Homo sapiens: one gene and its partners. The protein of the gene in region 2 interacts with the protein of the main gene of each other region in a pairwise test. Each region holds a gene or a part of one and is shown on either strand. Other genes may lie near its edges. The genes, in order: RHOJ, TRIP10 and ARHGAP44.

The links.
Region 1: the proteins of TRIP10 (region 2) and RHOJ interact in binary tests that used the Homo sapiens proteins (3 or more experiments, as listed by UniProt).
Region 3: the proteins of TRIP10 (region 2) and ARHGAP44 interact in binary tests that used the Homo sapiens proteins (3 or more experiments, as listed by UniProt).

Annotation. Positions count from the first base shown.
Region 1 is NC_000014.9:63,277,368-63,281,116, forward strand, and holds part of RHOJ (rho-related GTP-binding protein RhoJ), read left to right. Parts: intron 1-3,603; coding exon 3,604-3,749.
Region 2 is NC_000019.10:6,742,644-6,746,392, reverse strand, and holds part of TRIP10 (cdc42-interacting protein 4), read right to left. Parts: intron 3,427-3,749; coding exon 3,279-3,426; intron 3,200-3,278; coding exon 3,137-3,199; intron 2,900-3,136; coding exon 2,795-2,899; intron 2,686-2,794; coding exon 2,557-2,685; intron 1,840-2,556; coding exon 1,693-1,839; intron 1,594-1,692; coding exon 1,399-1,593; intron 759-1,398; coding exon of another isoform or gene 738-758; exon of another isoform or gene 659-737; intron 365-658; coding exon 197-364; intron 1-196. UniProt on the Homo sapiens protein: Required for translocation of GLUT4 to the plasma membrane in response to insulin signaling. Required to coordinate membrane tubulation with reorganization of the actin cytoskeleton during endocytosis.
Region 3 is NC_000017.11:12,787,630-12,791,378, reverse strand, and holds the start of ARHGAP44 (rho GTPase-activating protein 44), read right to left. Parts: upstream 1,882-3,749; 5' UTR 1,541-1,881; coding exon 1,488-1,540; intron 1,237-1,487; exon of another isoform or gene 1,095-1,236; intron 1-1,094. UniProt on the Homo sapiens protein: GTPase-activating protein (GAP) that stimulates the GTPase activity of Rho-type GTPases. Thereby, controls Rho-type GTPases cycling between their active GTP-bound and inactive GDP-bound states. Acts as a GAP at least for CDC42 and RAC1.

The DNA of each region.
Region 1 (3,749 bases), on a different chromosome or scaffold from region 2:
TACAGCCGTGTTCTCAACTCCAGGTCCACCCCAAACCAATTAAGTCAGAACTCCCAGATACGCAGGCCCACTCTCCAGAGATTCTAATTTAGCTGGTTCCAGAGTAGAAAAGGGGGTGGAGCAAGGAGTTGATTAGCAGAGCTTCAGGATGGTTTAAAAGCTCCCCAGGTGATTCTAATAAAAGTCACTGCAATAAATGGCCCACAGAAGTGCCACGTGTTCATTTGCAGGTCACTGTAGAGGTCATTTCTTCCAGTCTGTCAATAGCATTTATTGAATATTTACTGCGGAAAGAGTACCTGTAGGGATGAGAAAAAAATCAACATGGTCCCTACTCCATTTATGACAATCCAGATGGGAGCATGCAGTGGCAGAGGGCAGGTGGTGTGGTGAACAGCTGTAGATTATAGCCTGGGAAGGAGACTTCTTGGCTCACGGGCCTTACAGCTGCTCTTTAAGGGAACACTCCAGAGAGAAAAGAGAGAAGTGGGGAGACCATGGAAGAGGAGGTTTGTTTTTCAGAGCTAGTTGTGTAAAGAGGAGAGGGTAGTGCCAAGAATTTAGCTATCCCTTTCTCCACTGCCTCACCAGCTACACAAACACACACACACACACACACACACACACACACACAGACATAGGCACAACTTGGCTGAGATGCAACCCAGTAGACCTGGCACAACTTCCCAGTATGACCAGTGATTATTCAGCTGTGCACCCAACTCCCAATTATTGACTAGAAATGTGGTAAATTAGCCACAATAGTGGGGGTTTTTTTTGTTTTGGGTTTATTTTTTAGGATTTTACTTTTCAGCATCATTGCCCTCTTGCTTTGCATTTTGCATTAGGTACCTAAAACCTGTGCTTAAGTTTTAATAGTAGTAGCAGTAGTGGCCACATATACTGAGTCCCGTGTTCTGCATACTCTGAGTAGCTAAACAATAGATCAATGCATGCCCACCAACAGGAGTGGACCATACTTAACATTCTAAGGTACTTCCTTTCAGTCTCATGTGTATGTAGTGTGCACATGTGTGTACTTCCTTTTCTGGTCTTTTTTAAAATTTTTTTTATTATACTTTAAGTTCTGGGATACATGTGCAGAACGTGCAGGTTTGTTACATAGGTATACACGTGCCATGGTGGTTTGCTGCACCCATCAACCCGTTATCTAATAAATATATTATTAGAGTCAATAGAAAGGTTGATATTAAAAATATATCCATGATATATTGTTTTAAAAAACACAAGTGGCACAACAATATGAACAATTTAATCAATTTGTTTTTAAACTAAACATGTGTATGTGGTATACATACATAAATATAAAATGGGCCAGGTATGGTGACTCACGCCTATCATCCTAGCACTTTGGCGGGGGCTGAGGCAGGAGGATTGCTTGAGCCCAGGAGTTCAAGACCAGCCTGGGCAACACAGTGAGACCCCCATCTCTACAAAAAAAATAAAAATTGGCTGGGTGTGGTGGCATGTGCCTGTAGTCCAAGCTACTTGGGAGGCTGAAGTGGGAGTATCGCTTGAGCCCGGCAGTCTGAAGCTGCAGTGAGCCATGATCACGCCATTGCACTCCAGCCTGGGCAATAGATTGAGACTCCATCTCAAATAATAAAATAAAGTAAAATAAAATGTTTGGAAGGACAATGTTTAAGCAGTAGCTCCCTCTGGGGAGAGGAAATACTATTAGACATCATATCAGGGATGAAAACAAGCTTTCACTTCAACTCTGTGTACTTCTTCAATGTTTGCATTTTTGCAATGAGCACATACATGTTTTGTAAGTTTCTGAAATGTTTCATGAAGAGTAGTCATGCCCCTAATAAATGAGTTAATTATTTATTAACCCATCTCTATGAATACATGTATATCATAGGTGTGAACATATAAGTTTAGTTGCACATATAGTATACACACATATATAGTGCACACACATCATATATAGTGTGTATACACATACAAATTATGTATGGTGTGTATGGACACATGTCATGTTGCGATATGTGATGTATATATAAATATGGTATGTGTATGCACGCTTACACACAAAGTTACTGTCTGTTTATGTGTTACTAAATTCTATAAAAACATATAAAACTTTCTATTGAAATATCAGGTTTTACCGTGGAACCTCCTAAAACATTTTACATACAGTAAAAGCCCTTGCCAACATTTTCCCAAAGTCGAAATGATGCGCAGTTTTACTTTGTATTTATCAACTCCCACTAAAATAGCAAATACATAAATATCTTATGTAACCAGAAACTCTTCCATGAGCATATTCTGCTCTGAAAAATCTTTAGAAAGAAAATAATTAAGCCAGCATTTTATTTGGCCTTTAAGTAATACTTGAAACAAATCCAAAATTCTTAGCTCTAAACCCTCACTCAACATATTTCTTCAAATATTGTGGTGTCAAATTTGGCAATAACTCTTGTTTTGCATGTTAGTTCATTTATTCTAAATTAAATTTGGATATAATTTTTTTTAATCGTGTGAGGAGAGGATTCCTGTTGCCTTGGCAAATAGCTCACTAATTTAAATATAGTATATTCAATATAACACAATTCCAACATGATGGAAGAATTGCAATAATCTTTACTGAATGTTACACTTTAAATGGGTGAACTTTTGGTCTTTTGTTTTATTTTGTTTGTTTTTTGAGACAGGGTCTTGCTGTGTTGCCCAGGCTGGAGTACAGTGGCATGATCACGGCTCACTGCAGCTTCAAACTCCCAGGCTCAAGCCATCCTCCCACTTCAGCCTCCTGAGTAGCTGGGACTACAGGCGTGTGCCACCATGCCCAGCTAATTTTAGTATTTTTTTGTAGAGATAGGGTCTCGCTATATTGCCCAGGCTGATCTCAAGCTCAAGGAATCAGGTGATCCTCCCGCCTTGGCTTCCAAAGTGCTGGGATTACAGGCATGAGCCACTGTGCCTGGTCAGGTGAACTTTTGAATACATAGAAACAGAGAGTAGAACTATTGTTACCAGAGGCAAGTAAGGAAAGGAAACGGGGAGGTTTTGATCAAGGGTACAAAGCTGCAGTTAGCTAGGGTGAATAAGTCTACAGCTGTAATATACAGCATGATAACTATAGTTAATAATACTATATTGCATACTGGAAATATGCTAAGAGAGTAGGTCTCTGGTCCTCTCACCGTAAAATATATTTTTAAAGGTAAGCTGTAAGGAGATGAATATGTTAATTTGTTTCACTGTAGCATATATATGTATATCAAACACCATGTTGTACACCTTAAATGTATACAATTTAAAAATAAAAATAAATGGGTGAACTTTATGGTATATATAGGTAGGTATATAAGTTATATCTCAATAAAACTGCTAAAAATATTTTAAGTTCATCTTAAGAAGGGGCAATACATAATCTCTGTACGTAACAAAAAGGTATTTTTCTGACTGATGGCTCCTTTAGTTCTAGTAGAGAAAGAACTACCAGATTCCAGGGTTGAGGAAGAAACGGGATCCCAGTGCGCTGTAGTGGACTCTTACCTGAAATCTGACCTTGGAACTACATGGGACACACCTTACACAGGCTGTACAAACCCTTGTCTGCTCTTCCCACAGGAGGACTACAACCAGCTGAGGCCACTCTCCTACCCCAACACGGATGTGTTTTTGATCTGCTTCTCTGTCGTAAACCCTGCCTCTTACCACAATGTCCAGGAGGAATGGGTCCCCGAGCTCAAGGACTGCATGCCTCACGTGCCTTA
Region 2 (3,749 bases):
ACCCGTCTGAGATATTTCACTCCCTTCCCCAGCCATGGTTCTTGACAGCGAAGCCATGCACAGAGCAAAGCAGGTCTGGGTTGGGCAACCAGGGAAGAGGGGCCCAGCCAGCGGCAGGAAGCGAGCCCAGGGTCCCGCCACCCGCCGCTGGGCAGGCTAGGGCCACCACCTCCTCCTGCCCCGAGGCCTCACTTACCCCACGGCTGCCTCGAAGGCTGCGGAAGGATGCTAGCCTCGGTTTGACCGACTTACTGATCTCGCTCAGTATGGCCAAGGGGTCACGGCCGGAGCGGGGGGACGGGGGTCCGTTAGGCAATGCCGAGGGTACGGGGCCCCCCAGGGGGGAGAGGGGTGGGGGGCGAGGCTACCGGCGGGGGCCGGGGAGGGGGATAGGTTGAAGGGGTGGGGGGGCATAGGAGGATGTAGAGAGTGAGGACGAATGGACGGAGGGATGGACGCACGGATGGACGGATGGACGCAAAAAAAGGAAAAAGGAAAAACAAAATGGAGAAAGAAAAAAAACGGTAAGAAAACCACAACTCAAGATGCACAACCACACAGAGAAAACGCATGCAGGAGCGACACAAAAAAATCTGGAAGGTGGCGGGGAGGATGTTGAACTGTAAGCCCGAAAGCCAGAACTCTCACTCCCCCGGTATCTCCTAGGTCTCTGGAATGTTATGTCCGGGAGCAAGCATGGGTCCAGGAGGCAGGGAGGCCCATGTCTCTCTGTCCACTTAGCTTTCTGGGCTGACAGTCTAGAAGACGCATGCAGGAATCAAGGTCTCAGACAGGTAAGAGGCCACAGAGGACAAAAATAAATAAACAAAAATAAAACCACAAGCCGAGAGGGAGTGGAAGGCAGGAAAATGAGAGGGGTTAGGGGCATCAGAAGTTTAAGCTCGGGGATCACAGGTGTTAAGTCAAGGAGAGGTATGAGAGTGTAAGTGAAGAGGGACCCAAAGTATAAATCAAAGGTATAAACCAAGGGTGCTAAGGTATATTAAAATCCAAAAACCCAAGAAAGCAAGACATGCAGGGCGGCTCCCAGAGTCCCATCAGCAGGATGGAGAGAGAAACTCGGGGAGTCCCCAGGGATGGTGTCACCAGCCCTCAGGCCAGCCCTGAATTCCACCAGCAGGTTTTCTCCCAGCATCCCGAGAAGCAGCAGACAAACGCCACGGACCTCCCCACCTCCCCACCCTGCCCCCGCCTTCGCCTCGGGGGACTCCCAGGCCAATCGGCCGCCTTCCTTCCCTCCAGTCCGGGCTGGCAGCCAAGAGGAAAATTCCTGCCCGAGACTCGGCGTTCAGGCGGCTGGGGCTGACTCAATAGGGGCCCCACTGTCCCCACTTCACTGTCCTTCTCCCCCACCATCCCAAGGGTCCCGGCCCCCACCTTGTTCTTCTTGCCAAAAGGCCAGCGCTTGGTGCGGCTGCGACCCGGGCCTCGGAGTTCAGGCCGTCCATCCGAGGGGGTGCCCAGACTGCTGTCGGAGGGTGCACGGTTCATGGGCTGGCTGAAGTCCTCGAATTCCACGTCGCCCGGGCGGGCAAAACCTGACTTGTGCAGCTCTATAAGGACGTGGGAGTCCTGGGGGAGGGGGACAGTGGATGAGCAGTCGAGTGCCTAGCCTATGGGTACCTCCCTCTGCCCTTCCCGTAGCCCAGTGGACCCAGACCAGGCACCCACGTTCTTGGGATCCACAGCATTTGCAGCCACCTTCATGCCCTCCAAGCACTTGGCTATTATGGGCACCACCTCCAGCTCGGCCTCCGACAGGAGCCCATACCCGGCACCCAGGCGGGTGGCCCTGCGTTCATCCATGTCTTGGAGCTTCTGTAAGGACAGGGACAAGGGTGGCTCAGGGGTGCTAACAGAGGGACTAGAAGCACAGTGATTCACTCTGCAAATATGATCGCGCTCCACGCTGGCCCCAGCCCCAAGCCAGTCTGGAGGGGAAGACAGAGTCGGGAAGAGAGACTCCAGCCCACTGTGGTTGGGGAAGAGACACAGGGCCAGGGGGATCTCAGAGGGGGACGCGTGCCTAGGGGGTCAGCAAAGGCTTCTCAAAGGAGGAGACAAGGGAACAGGGATTTGAAGAAAAAGCAGAACCAGCCCTGATACTCCCAGGGCCACGGATGGGACAGAGAGTGGAGCGCTAGATTGAAACAGGAGAGGGGAAATTCGAGACCTTTCAGAGGGGTTGTTAGAGGTGGAGCTTAGAAGAATAAGTAGGAATTTCAAAAAGAAAGAAAGGTCACTTGAGCACAGGGGTTCCAGGCTGCAGTGAGCTGTGATTATGCCACTGCACTCCTGCCCGGGTGACAGAGCCAGGCCCCATCTCTCTATAGAAGTAAATAAACAAACAAGTAAAAGGCATGCCCAGCAGGAAGAACAGCTGACTAAAAGCACAGCTCACTGTTACTATAGGTTTCTGATTCCCTTTCAATCTAGGGACTGGGACATTGCAGCTGGGGTTTTGATGAATGCGTAGGAGTTGGCTAACATTTGGAGGCTTTCGGGAAGGTAGGTCTGAGAACTGGGAGCACTCACATCGAATATCTGGGGCATCTGTGAAAAATAGAAGTGGGCTTGGTCTCGGTTGAAGCGCTGCAGTTGAGCCGCATATTCGTTTTTGCTTTCTTCGGCCATGTGACTCCGAAGGTGGGCTTGCTGCTTGGCCTGAAGAATGCAGAGGTGGAAGGTACTGCCAGGTTCCGATCACGTCCCACTCGGACTCCCCAAGCTTGTCCCAGACCCCGCACCCCCCCCCCGCCCCCGCCACACACACCTTCTCCACATCAGCCTTGGTGGCGTTGATATCCTGGTCTAGCCGTTCAGCAGTCTGGGCTGCCTTCTCTGCCTCCCGGCAGTCCCGCTCAAATTTACGCTTACTCTGTGTAGGGGACAGAACCGGAGTGAGGGAGCCACCATCCCAAAGACAGCAGGGTGGGAAACCAAGGTTTCAGGGATTATTGGGATGTCATCCAGTAAGTAGGGGTCAAGGGAGTACTGGAAGCCTATGGGGGAGGGAAGGTCCAGGTCTGACAAAGAGGGCAGCTCCCTGACTCCGGATCCGCAACCCTGCCCCCATGCCTCCGGGCCACAGTCACTGCTACCTCTGCAAACTCACATTCTCCAGCTGTTTAAAGCCATTTTCCAGCTGCTGCTGGGCCCGCCGCCCTTCTTGGAAGTGCTACAGAAAGAAGAGTGATAAGGCTCGCCAGGGTTCCAGCAGAAGCCCTTTGTAAAACCTGAATCGGGGGGCTCCTCACCATCTTCCTCTCCTGTTTCATCTCTTGTGAGTACTTGGTCAGCTCAAGACATACACGGACACTGAGGTTCTCAGCCACCAGCTCCCGCTGGCCTGCAAAGTCATTCACCTCCTGGAGAATCTGTACGAAGGACTGTTGCTGGCTGAATCTGGGGTTGGATGAGAATCGGGGAACAGGGAGTCAGGCCCCTCCTCCCGAGCAGGCTGATGCCCCAGGACGCACCTCCAGGTGGAAAAGGGTTAAGCCCCAAGAATGTAATCCCTGAAGCGATGACAAATTCTGGTCCATATTCCTTAACCCCAACCCTTGAGTAGATTTTTTTTTTTTTTTTTTTTGAGACAGGGTCTTGCTGTCACCCAGGCTGCAGTGCAGCGGCATGATTGCGTCTCACTGCAGCCTCAAACTCCTGGGCTCAAGTGATCCTCCCACCTCAGGCTCCCAAATAGCTGGGACCACAGGCACACGCCACCA
Region 3 (3,749 bases), on a different chromosome or scaffold from region 2:
GTCATCTGCTAAACAACGAATACCAGGAAACACTATCTCGGCATCCAACACATCAAAAGGCAGTCCACGTGAGGCTATATCTGTGGCAATACCATGCCAGAAATCTGGGCTAATCTGACTCTGCTATTCATAAATTCCCCCTCATGTTAAAGCACATGTGTTTGGGAAGGAAAAATGAATCCAAGTCAATTTTAGACATTGTTACTTGGAAACCATCTGGAGTCCCTGGAAGCATAAGAAGCCACCGCATCCCCTGCCCTCAAATGCCCACTGTAACTAGGGCAGTATGCTCAGACGGGAGTTCAGATGTCCCCTATTCCCCAGGGATGTCCCCACCCCCATCCTACCAGATGCCAGTTCAGGCTCCACTTCCCACCCAAGAAAGGTATTCGGTTTCTCCGTAAACCTAGTGGAGAGCCCTCGAGGTGTTGAGCTTGCATTTGAACTGCACCCAAGGCTGGATTCTTTGCTTTCTGATTGCTTTAGAACAGCACACCTGAATTCCTTTGCCACAGCAGCAACGGAAATCCCTCCCCAGGAGTAGGGGTTCCAGGAAAAATCCCTTCTACCTAACGCTCCTGTGTTCAAAGAATGTCTAGTCTTGGGAGCGACCCACCAGGATTTTTATGTAACCTTAATAGATGTTGGCACCCTGCAGAGCCGCTCCTGGAGTCCAGATGTAGCCCATTTTCACCGTGATGGCAGCAGGCGGGGTCTTGCAGCTTCCCGGGGCCTGACTCTTCTGACTGTGGGGCCTCTGTCCCCCTCCCCTACCTGGCTGCGATTCTCTGCTTATCTCATCTTCCCGAGGACTTGGGCCTCCTTTTTGCAGCCTCCCTCCCTCCACTGAAATCAGTCCTAACATCAAGCAGGCAGCAACGCCATTCCACCAGCACCTTCCTTCCTCTCCCACCCCTCACCCTTTCCCCCCACCAAACGCCTTAAGAAACCCGGCCAGGAAAGTGATCCAGAATCTCGTACAGTCATAGTCCCTGAAAACAAACACGGCGGGAGGGGCAGGCCGACCAGGCCCAGCACTTTCCCTGGACCCGGGAGCAGCCCTGAACTCGGCGCAGGGGAGGGGAGGGAAGAGATCTCCGGAGACCGACTGCGGTTCGGCTGCCTCCAGCACAATCAGAGCAAACACCTGTTTCCAGGAAGACAGGCGGCCAGAGGGAGAAGGGAGTCCCGGGGAAAGGCAGGGAGGACGAAGCGAAGGGGCAGCCGGGGACGCAGGTAAAGGATGCGTCACACTTTGCGCTTGGCAACCGGAGCCCGGAGCAGAAGGCGGCGAGTGAGAAGAGCTCCGGGGTCTGGGAAGTTAGGGAGGAGGGGTCGCGCCTGCGAGCGGCGCCTGGAGGGAGCTGGTGCAGGGGAAAGGACTGAGGCAAGGAGGACTGGAGGCTGGGCGGGCTCCATCACCTGCGCGCCCCTGCGGATGCAGCCTCGCGGGCGCGCACCGACAGCGGTGCCCGCGGGTGACCTACCTGCCCACCGTCTGGTTGGCCAGCTGGCGCATGCGATTGAACTGCTTCTTCATCGTGGCCCCGCTGCCGCGCTAGCCCGGGAGCTGGGGAAGGACGGAGCAGCCCGGAGCCCGCCGCAGGGTTACATGGCTCCCGCGCGGAGCCTCCCGGGCGACGGCGGCGGCACTGCGGAGCCTCCGGGCGCCGTCTGGCCCGCGCGCAGCTCCCTCCCGAGGGCGCCGCCGCCTACTCCTCCCGCCGCGCCGCCTCCTGCCGCATCCCCCTCACGCGCGCCGCGCAATGCCCGGGGCAGAGCAATGCCTGGGGCCGTCCTCGGCACCGGCCCGCTCCGCCCGGGCTGCCTGCTCCCAGTCCCAGTCCGGCGCGGGGACCCGGGAGTCTCCGCAGGCTGGCTGGCCGGCTGGCCCGGCGGTCCCCGTGCGCCTGTGCGGAGAACGCCGTGCATGCCGGGACTTGTAGTTTCGCGCCCCGTGCCCACCTTTCCTCTGTCCAAAGTTTGCAAGGACAGTGGAGTGCGGAGGTGGGAGAAGGCAGCGTCACCAGCAGCTTTGCACTTTAGCGTTCGAGTAAGGGAAACGTTTTCCTGTTTTAAAAATGGCAAAGTGGGACCAAGAATACAACAGCAAATAAAGAAAGTGAGCATCTGTCTCTCATTGTATTTTTAGTGAATGTGAGGTATCAGTGTTCTGAATTCACAGAAGGGAGATTTATGCTAGCAGATACGTGGCTGATAAAACGGTCTAAGGTCACCTGATTAATGATGAGGTTCAAGGTTAAGCTTGAAACACAGGGGCTGACAGCAGATTTTGAACAGGCATAGCTTGCATCCCAGAAGTCTGATTCTTAATTTTTACCAAACCAAACCCATTAGGTAACCAGAAGCCAATATAGATAAGTGACGTTGTGCTTACTGGCCCAACCTGTCTGAGACAGCTTTTTTGTATGGCTTAGATGCCAATCTCGTATCTAGTCCCATTTCCCTTCCACCACCAGGAGACCAAGGGGCATCAGCTGCAGCACCCCCCAAGTGTCCTGCACCACAGCATCCCATTGGCGTCAGTTGACTCCTTGGAAGGGGTTGTGGCTTCTTTGGTCTCTATCCTTAGAAAAAGATAGGTGAGCCGGGCGCGGTGGCTCACGCTTGTAATCCCAACAGTTTGGGAGGCCAAGGAGGGTGGATCACGAGGTCAGGAGTTCGACACCAGCCTGGCCAACACAGTGAAACCCTGTCTCTGCTAAAAATACAAAAATTAGCTGGGCGTGGTGGCGGGCACCTGTAATCCCAGCTACTTGGGAGGCTGAGGCAGGAGAATAGCTTGAACCTGGGAGGTGGAGGTTGCAGTGAGTGGAGATCGCGCCATTGCACGCCAGCCTGGGTGACAGAGCTAGACTCCATCTCAAAAAACAAAAAAAAAAGAAAAGAAAAAAAAGAAAAAGATTGGTGATTGCAGTTAGGTTTTATCATTATATATCAAGGTTTTATCATTATATATCAAGTAAAAGCAGTATTGTTGGGTGTGAGGCACTTTGGATTAAACAGATAGGAGTTCCTGCATCAGAATTCCACATACCTGTTATATAACCTTAGGAAAACAGCTTAACCTCTCCAAACCTCTGTTTCCTCATCCCTAAATAGAAAAATATGCTGCCTGATCTTCAGTAAGAGAACTATTTGTTAAATTACAATAATCAAATTACATATAAATTTTCATATAGTACATTGCCGTATTCATTTACTACAAAATGATTATATTTAGCATAATAGAGAAAAATCCTGTTCATACAACAGAATTACTAATCTTATAAAGGAAGGATCTTCTTTGAAATAGGATATTTTGCATATGTTGATTATAGTTGCAAGATGTCCTAAATATGGCTCTAAGTATCTTGCTGGCTAGCTGAACAAAAAGTGGTTTGAGGCATGTCTTGGCTGAATGAACATGAAATCTTTAATTAATTGTGAATTTAGCCTCTGCTTATTAGGTCAGACAACTCCAGCCAGTGAATAAATGAAGGCATTATTTGCTTTTAACCAACTATGCTGTACCTATAATGTCAATATGATGTCTATATTAAGTGAAATTATTTCCATTTTGAGATTTTTTAAAAAGCAAAGTACAACATGCTTTTTATGTGTATAAACGGTAAGACATTAAGGTCACTGTATGACTTTTAGCAACACTATCTCTGGTAACTTCCAGAACTGCACTGTTGAATATAGTATCCCCTAGCCACATGTGGTTGTTGCAATTTAAGTTAATT